Linked DNA regions of Homo sapiens: region 1 is linked to region 2. Evidence: fine-mapped expression QTL. A gene starts in region 2. The other region holds a variant in brackets. All regions are shown on one strand. Distances are between the middles of the regions.

What was found.
Region 1: its variant is fine-mapped to the expression of RAP1GDS1 in CD4 T cells (Kasela 2017, PIP 0.95).

The regions. Positions count from the first base shown.
Region 1 is chr4:98,359,514-98,368,494 of GRCh38, forward strand. All of the region lies in intron 4 of RAP1GDS1 (Rap1 GTPase-GDP dissociation stimulator 1), which reads left to right. Among named protein-coding and RNA genes, the nearest start is that of RAP1GDS1, 100 kb to the left of the region's middle. The variant C/CA (reference allele first, on the strand shown) is at 3,965.
Region 2 is chr4:98,256,157-98,265,137 of GRCh38, forward strand. It overlaps RAP1GDS1 (Rap1 GTPase-GDP dissociation stimulator 1), which reads left to right and starts at 5,228. Exons shown (of 15, transcript NM_001100427.2): 1 at 5,228-5,413. The coding sequence starts at 5,410. RefSeq lists enhancers at 4,469-4,768, 4,520-5,082 and silencers at 5,049-5,348, 5,449-5,518.

The sequences.
Region 1 (8,981 bases), 100 kb after region 2:
AAATGATGGTAGGAAGTTTGTGGTTTTGGGGGAAAGTTCAAAATTGGGGCTGTAGGACATGTAAATCATGAAGATACGATTTTTTAAAATAGCCAAATAGTAATATAGGTATGCTATGGTAGAGATCTTGATTGTGCATCCATTAATGTATAGTGTGCTTAAAATGTCTATAGGCTAAGGAATTATTTTGACTTTGATATGTGGACAGGAAGGAGCCTCTGAAAGTAACTTGAAGAAATTGATATTTTCAGTTTTGTAGCATCATATAGTCTAATTGGAATGGACAGAGATGTGAGGCAGAGATATCAGGAAGCCATTACAGGAGGCCGGGTGTGGTGTGGTAAATAGTGACTGCGGCAGAGAGAACGAAATTATATTGTAAAGTGAGAGACAGTACTCAGATAGTTTATTATCAGTTTGGCTGGTTTTTGCGTAGCACTGCACCAGGTTTATTTAAGCAATGTAAAGTACTCTATCTCTTCAGATAGTTTACACTTTGAGAAACTATGATCTTTCCATTTTTGTACTTGGTATTAAATTTAAATCCCTCTTTTATTAAATGGTGTTTGGAAATCCAAGATTCTATAAAGTTTACCTTAAAATTGTAGGACAAAGAACACATATTACTGCTTTTTTCCCCATGCTTGATTACTTTCCAAATACTATGTTATAAAAAGCTAATGTCTTAGGGAAGACATGAAATAGTAATTTCGAGTAATTGTTCTTAATTTTATAGATACGAAAGTAGAGGCAACCTGTGAGAGAGTATTGCACGTGGCAAAAATATTAGATGATTTTTCTTGGGTTCAATAAGAAGTCATATATGGTTGCCTTCCCCCCCAACCCCACCCCCATTCTCTGAGTCAGAAGTCTGAATGGCTTTAGAACTTTCCTTTCCTCATTAAGAGGACTTAGGTAGGGTGGGAAAAGTCTAATTATAGAGGCCTACTTGGGGGTTTAAAAACATTTTTTGTCTAAATCTGTTTTTTCCCCTTACCTTTACCACTCTCATTTCACCTGTTAAAGTCAAAGTTTAGATATGTGAAACATAAGATTTCCAGTCTGCTTATTGAAACCCTGTCAACACATATTATCCTCTGCTCTTTTTAATAGGGTTTTGTTTACATTTTTAAAATTTTCTTATTTGTAACCAAGTTGAAGTACTGAGAACTTTCTCAACTTTTAATCAGCCTTTTCCTTGCTACAAGTAGGGTGCATTTTCCTTGGCGGTGAGGAAATATGAAAAATAAATGCTACGTAAAAGTGAATAATTCAGGGCCAGGCATAGTGGCTCACGCTTGTAATCCCATCATTTTGGGAGGGCGAGGCAGGTGGATCACTTGAGGTCAGGAGTTCAAGAGCAGTCTGGTCAACATGGTGAAACCCCATCTCTACTTTTTAAAAAGAAAACAAAACAAAACAAAACTAGCCAGGCATGGTGGCATATACCTGTAATTCCAGCTTTGGGAGGCTGGGGCATGAGAATTGCTTGAACCCAGGAGGCAGTGATTTAAGATCACAGCACTGTACTCCAGCCTAGGTGACGGAGTGAGACTCTGTCTCAAAAAAAAAAAAAAAAAGAGTGAATAATTTACATTTTTCCTGCTGAGTAAAATGTTTTTACCCGTTGAGAAACTATGCTGTCATCAGTTCAGATTAAATTCTAAATAACTATATATGCATTTGCTCTCACACACACACATATATATATACATATATATATAGTCTAGCATAATTTAAGTATGAAATAGTTTGGTACAAAAACACCTTTTATATTTAAAATATTTATAAAACGTTTTGATCTTGAACAATTGGAGTAATAAATTGGAACAATAAATTACATACATTATTATCTAAATGCTATGTAAAAGTAACTTTTATGGAAATAATTGAGTTAAATGACTTTATAATTTGTGTATAAAGATATTCAGTCTTTTGCTAATAAAATGATACAGAAATATAAAAATATAGGGAGTAAAGAAAGCTTTAGTAATTTCTTTAGGAAATGTATTGCCATTTATGGAGCCTTTATTAGATAAAGGGTTTTTGAAAAAGTAGAATTATTGAACAATTTTAACTAATGTGAGAAATCTGTTGGACAACAGAAATTAATACTAGTATCAGCAGGCACACCAAAAACTGTGTCCATCAAATGCTGGGCCATAACCTCATTTTATGCTGTGCCCTTGGTACTAGTGCTTTGGGAAATGAAAGATTTAATTCATTTACTTTTCCTGATCTGGCATTACAAGTGTAAATGTATATACACCTTGAAATTTTCCCACCTAAATGCAGATTTTTAAACCTGAATATAATGTCACAAAATTGCAAATTGCATGCTTCTCTTTTGATATGTGTGCACTTAACAGTCATGGTGGCTTTTTCTTCATGACTCATTTTTGTGATTTTACTTATGTAATATGTTATAGCTTTTGCTTTTATATCTAGTCTTTCAGGGATTTTGCCTGAATCTGGAAGGTGAATAAATTGCGTTTTGAGTTTTAGAAACGATATTCATGAGCTTTTTTATTTGAATGCTGAAAACATTCGATTATGTCTAAGGTACATAATAGAAATTCACTGTTGGCAAAATTATAGGGGGAAATGTAAGCATTAGAATTTAATTTTCTTTCCTAGTAGACTTCATAAATACATTTTAACTTTATCTTGAAAAACAATGTAGGGTCTGCATGTGGTGGCTCACAGCTGTGATCCTAACATTTTCAGAGGCTAAGGTGAGAGGATCACTTGAGCCCAGGAGTGCAAGATTAGCCTGGGCGTCATAGCAAGATCGCATCTCTACAAAAAATAAATTTAGCTGTGCATGATGGAGCACTTCTGTAGTCCTGCTACTCAGGAGGCTGAGGTAGGATGACACGAGCCTGGGAGTTCAAGGCTGCAGGGAGACATGATTGTGCTACCACACTCCAGCCTGGGTGACAGAGCAAGACCTTGTCTGAAAACAGACAACAACTAACACAATGTAGGTATGTCTATTACCATTTCCCTGCTCCAGGAAATTAAAATAGAACTTGGCAAAATTAAAAGCAGTATATTTAATAGGAATGGGAAAAAAAAAGCCTTCATAATCATGCAGATCAGAATGGCCAGTATTTCAGACTTAGAAAAATACGTTGCTGCTCATGATTTACATCCCTGACTTCTAATCTCTTTGAGTGTGAAAACTTCCTTTTTAACACCACAAATTATTGTTCTCTCCCTTTGAGGATATAGGTCACATATTTTTATAGTAATGATTGTACTTACAAAATGTATGTACTGAGAAGATATGAAATAATGAGTAAATGCCAGGAAATTCTCACTCTATGTCTTTGTATTCTTTGGTGTATACATACTACAATTAAATCCACACATATTGATTGAACCAACTATGTTTAGGGGACACTGCCTGTGATGGGGATTATAGGGGAAAGAATGAGCAAGAAGTCTCTATCCTTGTGAGGCTTTCACAGGAGGAGGTAGATAATAAACAAGTAAATACTACAGAAAAGATATTTATAGATTGTGATGACTGACATCAAGGGAATAAAGAAGGTGATGTATAATAATGGAGTGTATTTGAGGGTGAAGAAAGTTCTCTCTGTGGATGTTATTTAAGCTGAGGTCTGGAAAATGAGAATGAGCCAGCTAAGAGAAGAGGAAGAATATTCCTTATAGAAGTAGAGTAATTGAGCTAAGTGTGGTGGCTCACATCTGTAATCCCAGAATTTTGGGATGGCAAGGCTCAAGGGCTGCTTGAGGCCAGGAGTTTGAGACCAGCCTGGGCAACACAGCAAGACTCTGTCTCTACAAAATAAAAAATGAGCCATTATGGTGGCACGTGTCTGTAATCCCAGCTACTCTGGAGGCTGAGGTGGGAGGATCACTTGAGCCCAGGAGTTCTAGGCTGCAGTGAGCCATCACACCACAGCACTCCAGCCTAAATAACAGTGAGACCCTGTCT[C/CA]AAAAAAAAAAAAAAAAAAAAAAAAAAAGTGTAGTAATTGTAAAGCCCTGAGAGGGCAAGGGATTTGGTAGAAATTCAGAAAGGAAACCAGGTTATGCAAGATACTGTGAACAGGGAGTATTGTGTGATAAAGTTCAAGAAACAAACAAAAGTGTTGATGATAGAAAGCCTCATGAATCATCTTGAAGTAGTGAGAAGTTGTTGAAGGCAAGAAGTGACATGATCTGATTTGGATTCTAAAAACATCACTCTTGGAGCTGCATGGAAAAGGAGTTGAGAAGCATGGAAATTAAGAGTTAAGAAGGGAAGCATTGAGACTAATTGAAAGACTTTTGTGATTGTCCAGTCACAACATAATGGTAACTTGGATTAAGTTATGGTAGTGTGGAAGGAGGAGGAACTTAGAAAGTATTTGGAGTGATGGATTGGATTGGGAAAGTGCGAAAGGGAGAAATCAAGAGTGATTTCTAGGACTTGAGTACCTGGACAGAAGATGGGGCAATTTGCCGATGTAGGAAAGAACAGAGGTTGTTTTTTGTTTCTGGGTTTTTCCGTCATTGCTGCTTGTTTTTATTTTGTTTTGCTGCAGGCATTATTAAGTCTGAGATTCTTCATAGAGACACAAGAAGAAATGGCACATAGGCGATTTCTATATCTTTATATTCTTTTACCTTTGGGGAATAAATATTCAAAAAGTTAAAATAATCTCCTGCATTTAGCAAAATGTTGTTAACTGTTTCTTAGATGGAATATGTAGATTCAGGGAACCAAGAGAAATTAGAAAGCTTAAGTGAATAAAACTACCTTGAAATCATAGTTTTTTACGTAGGAGGGAATTTAAAAGTCATCTCAGCCACCCCTGCCAAATTTTACAGATAAAAAAACTGAGACCTGAAAATTCAAGTGACTTATCAGAATCAACAGCTAAATTGGTGATAGTGTTGATCTGAAAACCAGATCTCAGGTTCATTGTTTCCGTAAATATATCTGAGGAAGTTATCACTGTCAAATACATAAATGCACTGTCATTAAATACATTTATGCTTCAGTGTGAATAATTCTGAGCACGCAGGTTTTGGAATATGTTTTAAGGATTTTACTAAAAGCTGTTCTTAAGCCAACATTTTGTTTAATTTGTTTAAAGAACACAAAAATAAAATTTACCTAATTGAAAGAACATAGAGTAGAACCAAGTGATGGAGGAAAAACTTTTTACATTTTTCCAAGTATAAAAGCTTTATTTAAAAAAAAAAAAGTATGATGTGAGGGCTGGGTGCAGTGGCTCACACCTGTAATCCCAGCATTTTGGGGAGGCTAAGGCTGGAGGATCACTGGAGTCCAGGAGTTCAAGACCCACCAGAGCAACATAGGGAGATCCCATCTCTACAAAAAAGTAAAAGAATTAGCCTGGCGTGGTGGCACACACCTGTAATCCCAGCTACTCCAGAGGCTGAGACTTGAGCCCAGAAAGTCAAGGCTGCAGTGAACTCTGATCAGGCCACTGCATTCCAGCCTGGGTGACAGAGCAAGAAGACCCTGTCTCAAAAAAAGAAAAAAAAAGTATGTATGTGAATAAACATTCTTTATTATATTTGATTTATTCTTGACATTTTCTCTGTAGAGAAGTGTGTGAAATACTGACTTCCCTTTTAAACTCATTGGGAATAAAGGATGTTCAGATTTGATTGGATTCTTAGTAATACCTAAGGAAACCCAATTAAAAATTTGAGAGTTTGACTCTTCCCAGTAAACCAGCTAGACAAATACAGGTATGTTCTTCAAGTTTGCAGACAAGTATCTATTGCTTTGTATTGTTTTCTTTACACACAAGGTGTATAAAGAAAAATTAAAATTGAGCCAGGCATCATGGCTCACACCTGTAATCCCAGCACTTTGGGAGGCTGAGGTGAGCAGATCCTTTGAGCTCAGGAGTTTGAAACCAGCCTGGGCAACATGGCGGAACCCCCTATCCCCTCTCTACAAAAAAGTGCAATAATTGGCCTGTTGTGGTGGCATGCACCTATAGACCCTGCTACTTGGGAGGCTGATGTGGGAGGATCGCTTGAGCCTGGGAGATCGAGGCTGCAGTGAGTGGAGATTGTGCCACTGCATTCCAGCCTGGGCAACAGAGCAAGACCCTGTCTCAAAAAAATAAAATAATACTGTCCTTCTAATTGTTCTGAATAAATTCACTTTTTCCTGCAATAATGATATAAGGAATTTATACACATCTAACTTTTTTTAAATGTTACTTTTTATCACTTTTGTTCGATTTTTACTGATTGTTAATATACCCTTTTAAATATCTCTATTGGCACAGCAAAGTAAGCTTTTCAGTTTAGTAGCTCTCTAACAAAATATTTTCTAATTCTGTGCTTTAAGTGAAATAAAACGGGGATGAAAGTGGCAAAACCATATTATCATGTCCATGAGCAGCCAAAAAGAAGTCTTTAGTGACCAGAGAAACCTTAACGTAAACAGTAAGAAGCAAGTAATAGGACAGAAACAAACAGATTCTTTACTCAGAATGTTTGTCATTTGAAGTAAATACAAGTGGTGGTTCTCTTTCTCTCACTCTCTTTTCAACATAATATGGGTGAGTTAATAAGTATTTAATATATATGTGATATGGTTTGGCTACATCCTCACCCAAATCTCATCTTGAATTCCCATGTATTGTGGGAGGGACCCAGTGGGAGGTAATTGAATCATGGGGGCAGGTCTTTCCCATGCTATTTTCGTGATAGTAAGTCTCATGAGATCTGATGGTTATTATAAGGGGGAGTTTTCGTGCACAAGCTCTCTTTGCCTGCTGCCATCCATTGAAGACATGACTTGCTTCTCCTTGCCTTTGAAGCCATGATTGTGAGGCTTTCCCAACCACGTGGAACTGTAAGTCCAATTACACCTCTTTCTTTTGTAAATTGCTCAGTCTTGGGTATGTCTTTATCAGCAGCATGAAAACAAACTAATACAGTAAATTGGTACCAGGAGTGGGGCACTGCTGAAAAGATACCCGAAAATGTGGAAGCGACTTTGGAACTGGGTAGTAGGAAGAGATTGGAGCAGTTTAGAGGGCTCAGAAGAAGACAGGAAAATGTAGGCAAGTTTAGACCCCTACAGGCTTGAATGGCTTTGCCCAAAATGCTGATAGTGATATGGACAATAAAGTGCAGGCTGAGGTGGTCTCAGATAGAAATGAAAAACTTGTTGGAAACTGGAGCAAAGGTGATTCTTGTTATGTTTTAGCAAAGAGACTGGCAGCATTTTGCCCCTGCCCTAGAGATTTGTGGAACTTTGGACTTGAGAGAGATGATTTAAGGTATCTGGCAGAAGAAATTTCTAAGCAGCAAAGCATTCAAGAGGTGACTTGGGTGCTGTTAAAAGCATTCAGTTTTAAAAGGAAAACAGAGCATAAAAGTTTGGAAATATGCAGCCTGACTATGTGACAGAAAAGAAAATTCTATTTTTCTGAGGAGAATTTCAAGCCATCTGCAGAAATCTGCGTAAGGAGGAACCGAATGTTAATCCCCAAGACAGTGGGGAAAACGTCTCCAGAGCATGTCAGAGGTCTTCACAGCAGCCCCTCCCATCACAGGCCTGGAGGCCTAGGAAGAAAAGATGGTTTTGTGGGCCGGGCCTAGGGCCTGCCTACTCTGTGCAGCCTAGGAACTTAGTACTCTGCCTTCCAGCCACTCCAGCTATGGTGAGCAGGGGCCAAGGTACAGCTCAGGCTGTGGCTTCAGAGGGTGGAAGCCCCAAGCCTTGGCAGCTTCTATGTGGTGTTGATCCTGCGAGTGCACAGAAGTCAAGAATTGAGTTTGGGAACCTCCACCTACATTGCAGGAAATGTATGGAAACACCTGGTTGGCCAGGCAGAAGTTTGCTTCAGGGGTGGGACCCTCATGGAGAACCTCTGCTAAGGCAGTGCAGAAGGGAAATGTGGGGTTGGACCCCCGCACAGAGTCCCTACTGGGGCATCACATAATGGAGCTGTGAGAAGAGGGCCACCATCCTCCAGACCCCAGGACGGTAGATCCATCAACAGCTTGCACCAGGCACCTGGAAAAGCTGCAGACACTCAACACCAGCCCATGAAAGTAACCAGGATGGGGGCTATACCCTGCAAACAAGAGGGCAGAGCTGCCCAAGACCATGGGAACCTACCTCTTGCATCAGCGTGACTTGGATGTGAGACATGGAGTCAAAAGAGATCATTTTGAAGCTTTAAGATTTGACTGCCCTGCTGGATTTCAGACTTGCATGCAGCCTGTAGCTCCTTTGTTTTGGCCAGTGCCTCCCATTTGGAATGGTTGTGTTTATCCAATGCCTATAGCCCCATTGTATCTAGGAAGTAACTAACTTGCTTTTGATTTTACAGGTTCATAGGCAGAAGGGATTTGCTTTGTCTCACATGAGACTTTGGACTGTGGACTTTTGAGTTAATGCTGAAATAAGAATTTGGGGGAATGTTGGGAAGGCATGATTGGTTTTGAAATGTGAGGACATGAGATTTGGGAGGGGCCGGGGGTGGAATGATATGATTTGGCTGTGTCCCCACCCAAATCTCATTTTTAATTCCCATGTATTGTGGGAGGGACCCAGTGGGAGATAATTGAATCATGGGGGCAGATCTTTCCTGTGCTGTTCTCATGATAGTAAGTCTCATGAGATCTGATAGTTACTGTAAGGGGGAGTTTTCCTGCACAAGCTCTGTTTGCCTGCTGCCATCCATGTAAGATGTGACTTGCTCCTCCTTGCCTTCTGCCATGATTGTGAGGCTTCCCCTGCCATGCGGAACTATAAGACCAATTAAACCTCTTCCTTTTGTAAATTGCCTAGTCTTGTGTATGTCTTTATCAGCAGCGTGAAAACAAACTAATACTGTATGTATTACCTCATCTTGGTTAACTGAGATCCATATTATGCACTGCTTTTTAATAAAAAGAGAAAGGAATGGAGATATGCCAGATTATTTGTTTTGAGTTGGTATATATTTCAGGAAGTCATAAATAAA
Region 2 (8,981 bases):
TCAAGAAACTTTCAATGGTTTATTTCCTAACTTAACAAGTTTAAATTCCTCTGGCTGGCTTTTTCAGCCCCTCACAATCTGTTCTTCATACTAAATTTTTAATCTTATTTCTCAAGATGCCACAATAAGTATCCCTGCATCGTTTTTTTGTTTTTTGGTTTTTTTTTGTTTTTTTTTTTTTGAGACAGAGTCTCACTCCCTCACCCAGGCTGGAGTGCAGTGGTGTGATCTTGGCTCACCGCAACCTCCACCTCCTGGGTTAAAGTGATTCTCCTGCCTCAGTCTCCCAAGTAGCTGGGACCACAGGCACGCGCCACCACGCCCAGCTAATTTTTGTATTTTTAGTAGAGAAGAGGTTTCGCTATGTTGGCCAGGCTGGTCTTGAACTCCTGACTTCAAGTGATCCGCCTGCCTCGGCCTCCCAAAGTGCTGGGATTACAGGTGTGAGCAACCGCACCCGGCCAATATGTACCCTTTTTAATGGTCTTATGAATATGGCCTATAGGTGTCTTACCACATGCTGTTTCCCTGTCTTGGAGTAAATTCTTTTCTTCCCATCCTTTCTCGGAAAAATTCTATCCATTCTTCAGGTATGTTCTCCTTATACAGCTATCTTTAACTAGTAGGAAGAGACTTTTAAGAGAGATTGTTCTTACTCTCTTGTTTTGCATGATATGTACTTATAGCTATTTCTTTTTTTTTTTTTTTTTTTTTTTGAGACGAAGTCTTGCTCTGTCGCCCAGGCTGGAATGCACTGGCACGATCTCGGCTCACTGCAAGCTCTGCCTCCCGGGTTCACGCCATTCTCCTGCCTCAGCCTCCCGAGTAGCTGGGACTACAGGTGCCCGCCACCATGCCTGGTTTATTTTTGTATTTTTAGTAGAGACGGGGTTTCACCATGTTAGCCAGGATGGTCTCGATCTCCTGACCTCGTAATCCACCCGCTTCGGCCTCCCAAAGTGCTGGGATTACAGGCATGAGCCACCGCGCCTGGCCCTTATAGCTGTTCTTTTATAGCATCTAGCACAGTGCTGAGCTCAGAAGAAATGTTCAATAACTACATGACTGATTTTAAAGTGGTATATCCCATCTAAAAACTGTATGTAATCTAGGTCTGTTGTTGCTTGAAACATGTAGACATTAGTTTGAGGTGACAGCCTATGAAAATAATTTAGATTTTACAACATTTAGAAAATGGCTAAAATATTAAATAAATGGAGAGCGGGGGAGAAAGAGGTTACATTGAGGTTAAGACATTTCAGTTGTTCAACCTGGACTAACTTGATCTCACCAATGAAGTCTCTGAAAAATAAACAGTTTAGGCAGAAGGCTGTTCACTGCCAAATCATTTTCTATCACCGCAAAGTTCAATTAACTACTCCAGTGAAATTCCCTTAAATGATATTCAGAACATCATGGTGAACAGGAGGCAATCAGTTCCCTATTATACTTTTAAAGAACATTCTCTCCTCTCTTTCCACTTCTTGTTGTGTTGCCCCTCCCAATAGATTTCCTCTAAAGAATTTAAATCACCTTCTAACCTCTTTAAGCTTACATGCATCAATGAGGTAAGTTATAAGTCTTGCCAAAATGTACTGCTTCTGATCTTTTCTAAAAGACATTTTCCTTGATACTCCCCCATAACAGCTATTTAGTAATCATAAACCAATTTTCAACAGAAATTGTTATTCAAATAAATCCGTGATACTTTATAAATATGACATTTCCTAGATTGAAGTTGAAAACCTTTGCACTGGGCCAGAACTTCCTTTGTTTTGTAGCAGGCCTGATAAAATCCTGACCATTGCCTAACATACAGTATGGGTATTAGTAGATCGATTTTGGAAGAGTCTCTTGACATCAGGGATGTCAAGAGATGTAGATATAAGGTGTTGCTATCTTGTACTGGCTGCTCTCAGAATCCTGACCTCAAGTGATCCTCCCTCCTCGGCCTCCCTAAGTGCTGGAATTATAGGTGTGAGCCACCATACCTAGCAAATTTTTATTAAGCACTTGCTATGTGCTAGCACTATTTAGGCACGGGGGTTATAATGGTAAATACAGCAGACAAAAATTATTTCCCTAGGAGAACTTACATTTAAATGTGGGAGACAGTCCAAAAGCAAAATATATATTATCTTATTGATAACTGCTAAGGAAAAAAAATAAAGTATAGAAGTGGGGATATGAAATGGGAAGGAGTGTTGAAATTTTAGATAAGATAACTAGGGAAGACATCATGCAGGTAACTTTTGAATAAAGACATAAAGGAAGAAAGTAAAGATATGAGACAGAAACATTATATTCTTATAATAGAACAAGAAAGGAGAGGGGAAGGGAGGTGGCATTGTGTGTGCAAGGAGTAGGCAATATACCAGTCTGGAAGTAATTCACTTCTGCATATAACAATCAGTATTGGTTCTCACTATGGTTACAACACCGGTGCATTAGGACTCAGTATATGCACTAAGCCTGAACAATCCTTTGGTTTTAATTGGCAGGAAGGCTAAGGAGATGGCTTGTAGATTGAAGTAGAACAAAAAAGGCACTTTAACTAGTGTCAGATGGGAAATGAGAAAGCCACTTCAGCTGCTTTTGCTAATTTCAACGCTTACATCCAAATAAATGATAGAAGATACTCCATGAAATTATTATAATATGTAATTAGATAAGGAAGTAGGAAAAATAAAGCAAGTTAACTTGACAATCTGGAAGAGATTAATGAGTGTTAAGGAGAGATGAACAAAAAATGATGAGCAGCAATGCAAAGGCCCAGGCTGGTCTTCTGGAGGAGTAATAAAATTAATGTGTAACATGGCCGATGTGGGGGCAGTGAGGGGCCCTGAGGGTGGGGTCTGCATTGGTGTATTATGGGTTGAATTGTGTACCCCTCCCGGATTCTTTTTTTTTATTTTTATTTTTTTTGAGACAGGGTCTTGCTCTGTGGCCCAGGCTGGAGTGCAGTGGTGCAATCTCAGCTCACTGCAACCTCCGCCTCCCGGGTTCAAGCGATTCTCCTGCCTCAGCCTCCCAAGTAGCTGGGATTACAGACACGTGCCACCATGCCCAGCTAATTTATTTATTTTATTTATTTTTTAGTAGAAATAGGGTTTTGCCATGTTGGCCAGGCTGATCTCCAGCTCCTGACTTAAGTGATCTGCCCTCCTGAGCCTCCCAAAGTGTTAGGATTACAGGCGTGAGCCACTGTGCCTGGCCCTGGCTAATTTTTTGTATTTTTAGTTAGAGATGGGGTTTCGTCATGTTGGCCAGGCTGGCCCTATTCATATGTAGAAGTCCTAACCCTTAGTCCCTTAGAATGTGACCTGATTTGGAAATAGGGTCATTGCAGATATAATTAACGTCCATGAGGTCATACTGGAGGATGGTTCGCCCCTAATCCGTTATGACTGCTGTTCTTATTAAAAAGGGAAATTTGAACACACAAGCACACTGGGAGAACAGCCATGTTCAGATTGGAGTTACGCTACCATATGCCAAGAAACTACCAGAAGCTAGGAGAGGCATGGACGAGATCCCTCCCCAGTGCCCTCAGAGGGAGTACAGCCCTGCCTACACCTTGATTTCAAACTTCTGGCCTCCAGAATTGTGAGATAATAATTTGTTGTTTTAAGTCACCCAATTTGTGGTATGTTACGGCAGCCCTAGGGAACTAATGTAGTGCGATTATTTTAAGAGGCAAACAAGAAGAACATCCTAAGAGTGAGGTGCCTGATAGTCTCATGCATCAGAAAAGTCCCATATATTTGACTTCAGCAGTTAAATTGTATTTTCCTGTTTTACCAAACCTTTTTAATTATCGTTTCTTGCTGTAGAAAAATCACATAAAATCTGCTCTTTGCTTAACAAATTACAGGGTCGCTTCTGATTTGTGTGCTCGAAATACTAGTCACCAAGCAGAAACTGATGACTGTGAGAATAGGCGACTAATTAACAAACAAACAAAAAAAGCCCTTTCTCAACATTGGATTGACCGAGTGAAAGTTGACAGGGGAAAGACACCTCGATTCAGCCATCTTTCTCCAACAGGTTGTACTGCTGACTGCACAGTGTCCCCTGAAGGACTCCGGTCGCTGTAGCCTTGGAGAGCGACCAGATTCCTCACCCCACTCAGGAGGAGCCAGGGCAAGATTAGGGTGCAGAGAAATCGGTTTCCTCCAGCCTCCTACCCCAGGGAAGAGGACCGAAGCCAGCCCCGGCCTCACGTGCATGCCCAGTCGGGAGGACGCCCTCAGTGGGAGAGCCCTGCTCAGGTTCTCCCCGAGGCCGAGGTGGTGGTGGGAGCGGGCGGTGGCCCCGGGATCAAAGGACCTCCGCCGGGTTAGCTTTGGCAGTGCCGCAGCCAACCCAGCAGGACGCTTATTTTCAAGCCTGGGGAACGTAGTTCCTCCCGCTTTCACAGCAGGATGGAGCCCGACGGCACCCCGGTTAAAGGGCCTTTCCAGAGCCCTCCGGGGAACGGAAGGCCGCGCTCCTCCGGGAGGGAGAACGACACACTCTTCGAGGAAATCCTGGGGCGGGCGCTCTCCTCGCTGCCGGGACCTTTGTTTCTAAGCTGGCCACAGCTAGAGCAGCCTTAAGTGTCCCAATGACACGCCTGCTATCGAGCGCCCTCCCGGCGGCCCCTCCTCAGCCAGCTGCCCAGCGGGCGTCCTCAGGTGTCCCCAAGAGGCGCAGGCCTAGTCGCCTACACGTCCTTTCCAACTTCGTCAGCTCTGGCTTCCCACCACCCCTCCCGGCTCTGCGGCGGCCCAGCCTCTTCTCCGGTTAATTCCGGCCTGTGCGGCCCGGTCGTCCCGTAAAGAAGGCAAGCCCGGGTTCCGGGTGAGGGGTTGGTGGGTCAGGGTGGGAAAGCAAGGCAGCGGTGAGTCCTCTGCTAGCAGATCGGGCTCAATATCCCCATTCCCTGTTTTCTCCGGGCCCGCCCTCCGCCTCTCAGGCGGCCGCCATGAAGATCCTCTGCCGCGGCTGCAGCCGGTCTGCAAACACACGCCCACCCGCACGCTTAGCCTCGCTCGCCACAGAGGGAGGGGTGGAAAAGGCACTGAGCATGCTCGGTGGGGAGGGCGGGGCGCTCGTGGGCTGCGAGTCGGGGCCGGAGCTCTTCAGGCCGGCTCCCGCGCCTCCGCCGCCCGCCCGCTCGGAGCCGCGCCCGCCGCAGGCTGCGCCCGCCAGTCCCGCCCCGCCCCGCCCCGCCCCGCCCCCCGCCGCTCGTCCCCGCCGCGGCCGCGCCGCCTGCAGCAGCACCAGCTGCTCCTCCCCGGCGGCCGCCCCCCGCGGGTCCCTCCCTGGCTGCGGGAGAGACGGAGGTAGAGGGAGGACACAGAGCCGCGCCGCCCGCACCACAGACCTTCGCCTCGCCCCGCCGGTTCCTCACCCTCGGGGAGCAACATGGGTAAGTCATCCTTCCTCCGCCGTCATCGCCTGACATTTTTTTCTTTCTCGGCGTGCTGCAGGGTGGGAAGCATTTCTCGCGCAAAGTTGCCGGATTTCTCCAGTCCCCGGGTGTGAGACGGTGGCTGTTCCTCCGGGGAGAGTCGGCGCACGCGGAACGCACGCCGGGTGCCGGGGCTGGGAGGGTCCCGAGCGCGGGCTGGGGTGGGGTCGGCCGCGGGCCGGACCGCCGCCCGGCTCCCCGGCACCTCGCAGCCTCGCCTCCCCTCCTCCATTCTTCCTGCCGGTGCCCGGGCACCACGGAGCCTGCCTCGCGGGCTCGCATCTGCAGCTCCATCCCCGTTTCTCCAGAGGCCGCCCGCTTCCTTTTCCCCCGCGTGTACTGAGCTCGAGGCTCGGGTCCGACCACTACCACTTCGTGTAACTTCCTTCTCTGTCAGTGCGACCTTTCCCCGTCGTGGAGACTCCTCATCCCGGGCGGGGAAGTGGAAGCAAGTAGTTTGTGAGGGAGATCTTACAACCTGCACGGAAATTATTTTCCAAGGGGGAGAGCGGACAGCCTCATAGGTTGAAAGGATGACTTGTCAGAGGCCACGAGGAACGTGAGGCAGGATAGAGCCGCTAGCTGTTGAATTAGTGCTGGGTGACTACAGTGTGCAATATTCCCGTGCCCAGCCTATTTTCTGGATTCCTTCGTCCGTCTTCTGTAGCAGGAAACTGCGCCCTGTAACGTTGTTACCGAACTTACATGGTAGTTATTCTTTCCCAGCTTCCTCCTGTCTAATCTGCATAATCTGATTTTAGTTCCTTTGTATTTATAGTTAATCTGAAGAGATTGGTTTGGATGAGAGATTTAAGAGCAAATATGTTTTATAAAACGATATATACATTTGACCTAATTTTTTTACATCATCTATTGCTTAACTGTTACATTCAGTAATCACAGAAACGTCTGATGAATGCTGTCATGTAATTAAGAGCTCAAAGTTTCTTTTAATAGTAGCGACTTGTACTAAGTTCCCCAGTTTGCTTCCACTCCTGTCTGTCATAATTTCCTCTTTTTAAAATTTGCTCCCTTGGCATCTGTCAGCTGGGACTTTTCCCACCCCTTCTGTGCGAGTTATTTAAAGCTTGAGATGAATGTGGTCCTTTCATCTGTTAATACAGTGCTCAACACGTTCAGAGTTAGGTGGTGCAACTCAGAATCTTCAAGAAGTATCTAAACCTGGGAATGGTGTCCATAGAGTTTTCTGGAACAGCAAATGCTTCAGGCTTTGATCCCGACCTTTGGCCATATATCTGGAAGAGGCCAGGGTTGACGGAGGAGGTGGTATGAATCAAAAAAGGTCTAGGGCTCTGAATTTTATTTTCAGTTGTTTTTTCTTTTTAACGTGAGTACTCGATATGCTGAACAAATTTCTGTAAAAATTGGGTGGCCCATTTATGCGTGTCTGCCTTTCTCTTAAAGTAGATTTTTAAATAGGTATTATATCAGATTATTGGACAAGCTGTATATTTCCGTCGAACATACACACGTTTATGTGTGTTCCCTTTGAACATACACAGATAAAATACACTTTGAAATAAAATTCCTTTGAACATACATACACAGATAAGTGTGTGTATGTTCAAAGGAAATATACAGTATGTCCAATAACCCTATCTGATATTGGACTGTAAGTTCAAGTTTGGCTTGCAAAATATATTTTCCCATGTTTCCAGGTGAGCCTTAAACAATCCATTTAACATTTTAGCTTACATGTTAAATCCGTACTTTTTCAGTGGAAAAAATCCAATTCCGTTACAACACTGGTGAATAAAAATACCTAAAAGAAATTATCTACTTAAAAATAATCTTCAAAATCTTGAGTGCTATTGCTTGATTTTTAAAAAGGGCCAAATAGAAACCTATCTCTCATTTTGAAGCCATCTCTGATACTCTTTGGTTAATCTGTCTCTTCATAAGCACTGTTTGTACCTTGTTAGAAGCTTTTTAGCACTTACGTAATCTACCATATAATAAAGTTGTTTATGTGTGTGCTGTGCATTTAATCATGAGTCCCAGAAGATGAAAAGTGTCTTATTATTTTTTGTGTTCCCCACAGTGCTTTTCAAATAGAAATTCAGTAAATCTTTGGCAAATTGTTGAACTTAAAGCCACCTATTATTTTCAACTTTTGAACCTGAAGATATAGTCTTCATCTGAACAAACATTTGGGTTGGTACATATTATCTAGTTGGGGGATAAGCAGAAACAGAAAGGTATAATTGTACCATGCCTCCCAGTACACTGTAGGTTGGTTTTGAGTCAACCTCAGGCAATCTGTTTCCTTCTAAACTCTCTTCAATGGTAAGGCAGTTTCATGTATGATCAGTAGGTACATATGATAATTTAAAATTGAAACCTTGGGGAACAGTTTTATATCTGGGCCAAGGAAGTTAGTATAACAATTCATGTACACATAAGAAGGTAGAAGGTATACTGGTTAATGATGAGGGGAGGGAGAAGTGCTTTTTAATTTGTCTCAAGAAATAAATAAGGTTGATTTTTAAAGATAGTCTCAGCCGGGCGCGCACTTTGGGAGGCCGAGGCGGGCGGATCACCTGAGGTCAGGAGTTGGAGACCAGCCTGACTAACATGGTAAAACCCTGTCTCTACTAAAAATACAAAAAAACAATTAGCCGGGTGTGGTGGCGGGCGCCTGTAATCCCAGCTGTTTGGGAGGCTGAGGCAGGAGAATCACTTGAACCCGGGAGGCGGAGTTTGCAGTGAGCCGAGATCATGCCATTGCACTCCAGCCTGGGCAACAAGAGGGAAACTCTGTCTCAAAAAAAATATATATATATATTCTCATGGCAATAATTTCCTACACAAGAGAGTGAAAGAAAAGTCCTATATAACTTTATGGCCATAGCTACTATTTTATGTATATGTCATATTTCAGATTCAACATACATTTAGTGTTTGTTGGATATCAACTGTGCAGTGTACTGTACTACAGTGTACTGGGAGGACAAAGATAAAAAGATATTCATGTTTCACATTTATAATCTTAGCAGGAACAATATGACACATACACAAATTATAATAGAAGTAAAAGTATAAGTTATATAAAAGACCTTTACATATATTATAGATTCAGAGAATGGAGAGAACGTTTTAGAGAAATGGTGTTATTTGAACCAAAGGTGGGTTAAACTTCTTAAAGGTAGAAATGAGACTGTTAATCAGAATGGAGTTGGTCTGGGGTTGGAAGAGAAATGACATAAATGAAGATAGATAGGAAACATTTTATGAATTTCCAGGATATGATTAAACAGCATTGTTTGGCTAGAGCAAAAGGTAAGGAAATAGTGGGTAACAGACATGAAAAAGTAGTACAGTAATAGCTAATGACCAGATAATGTAGGATCTAAAATGCCAAGCTGAAGAATTTTAATCTGACTTACCTATTGAGAGACCACTAAACATTTTTATGTAGTTAAGTGATGGATCACATCTGTGGTATAGGAAAATTTGTCAGTTGAGTGCAGGATCGATTAGATGAGAAACTACAGAACACTTCAGA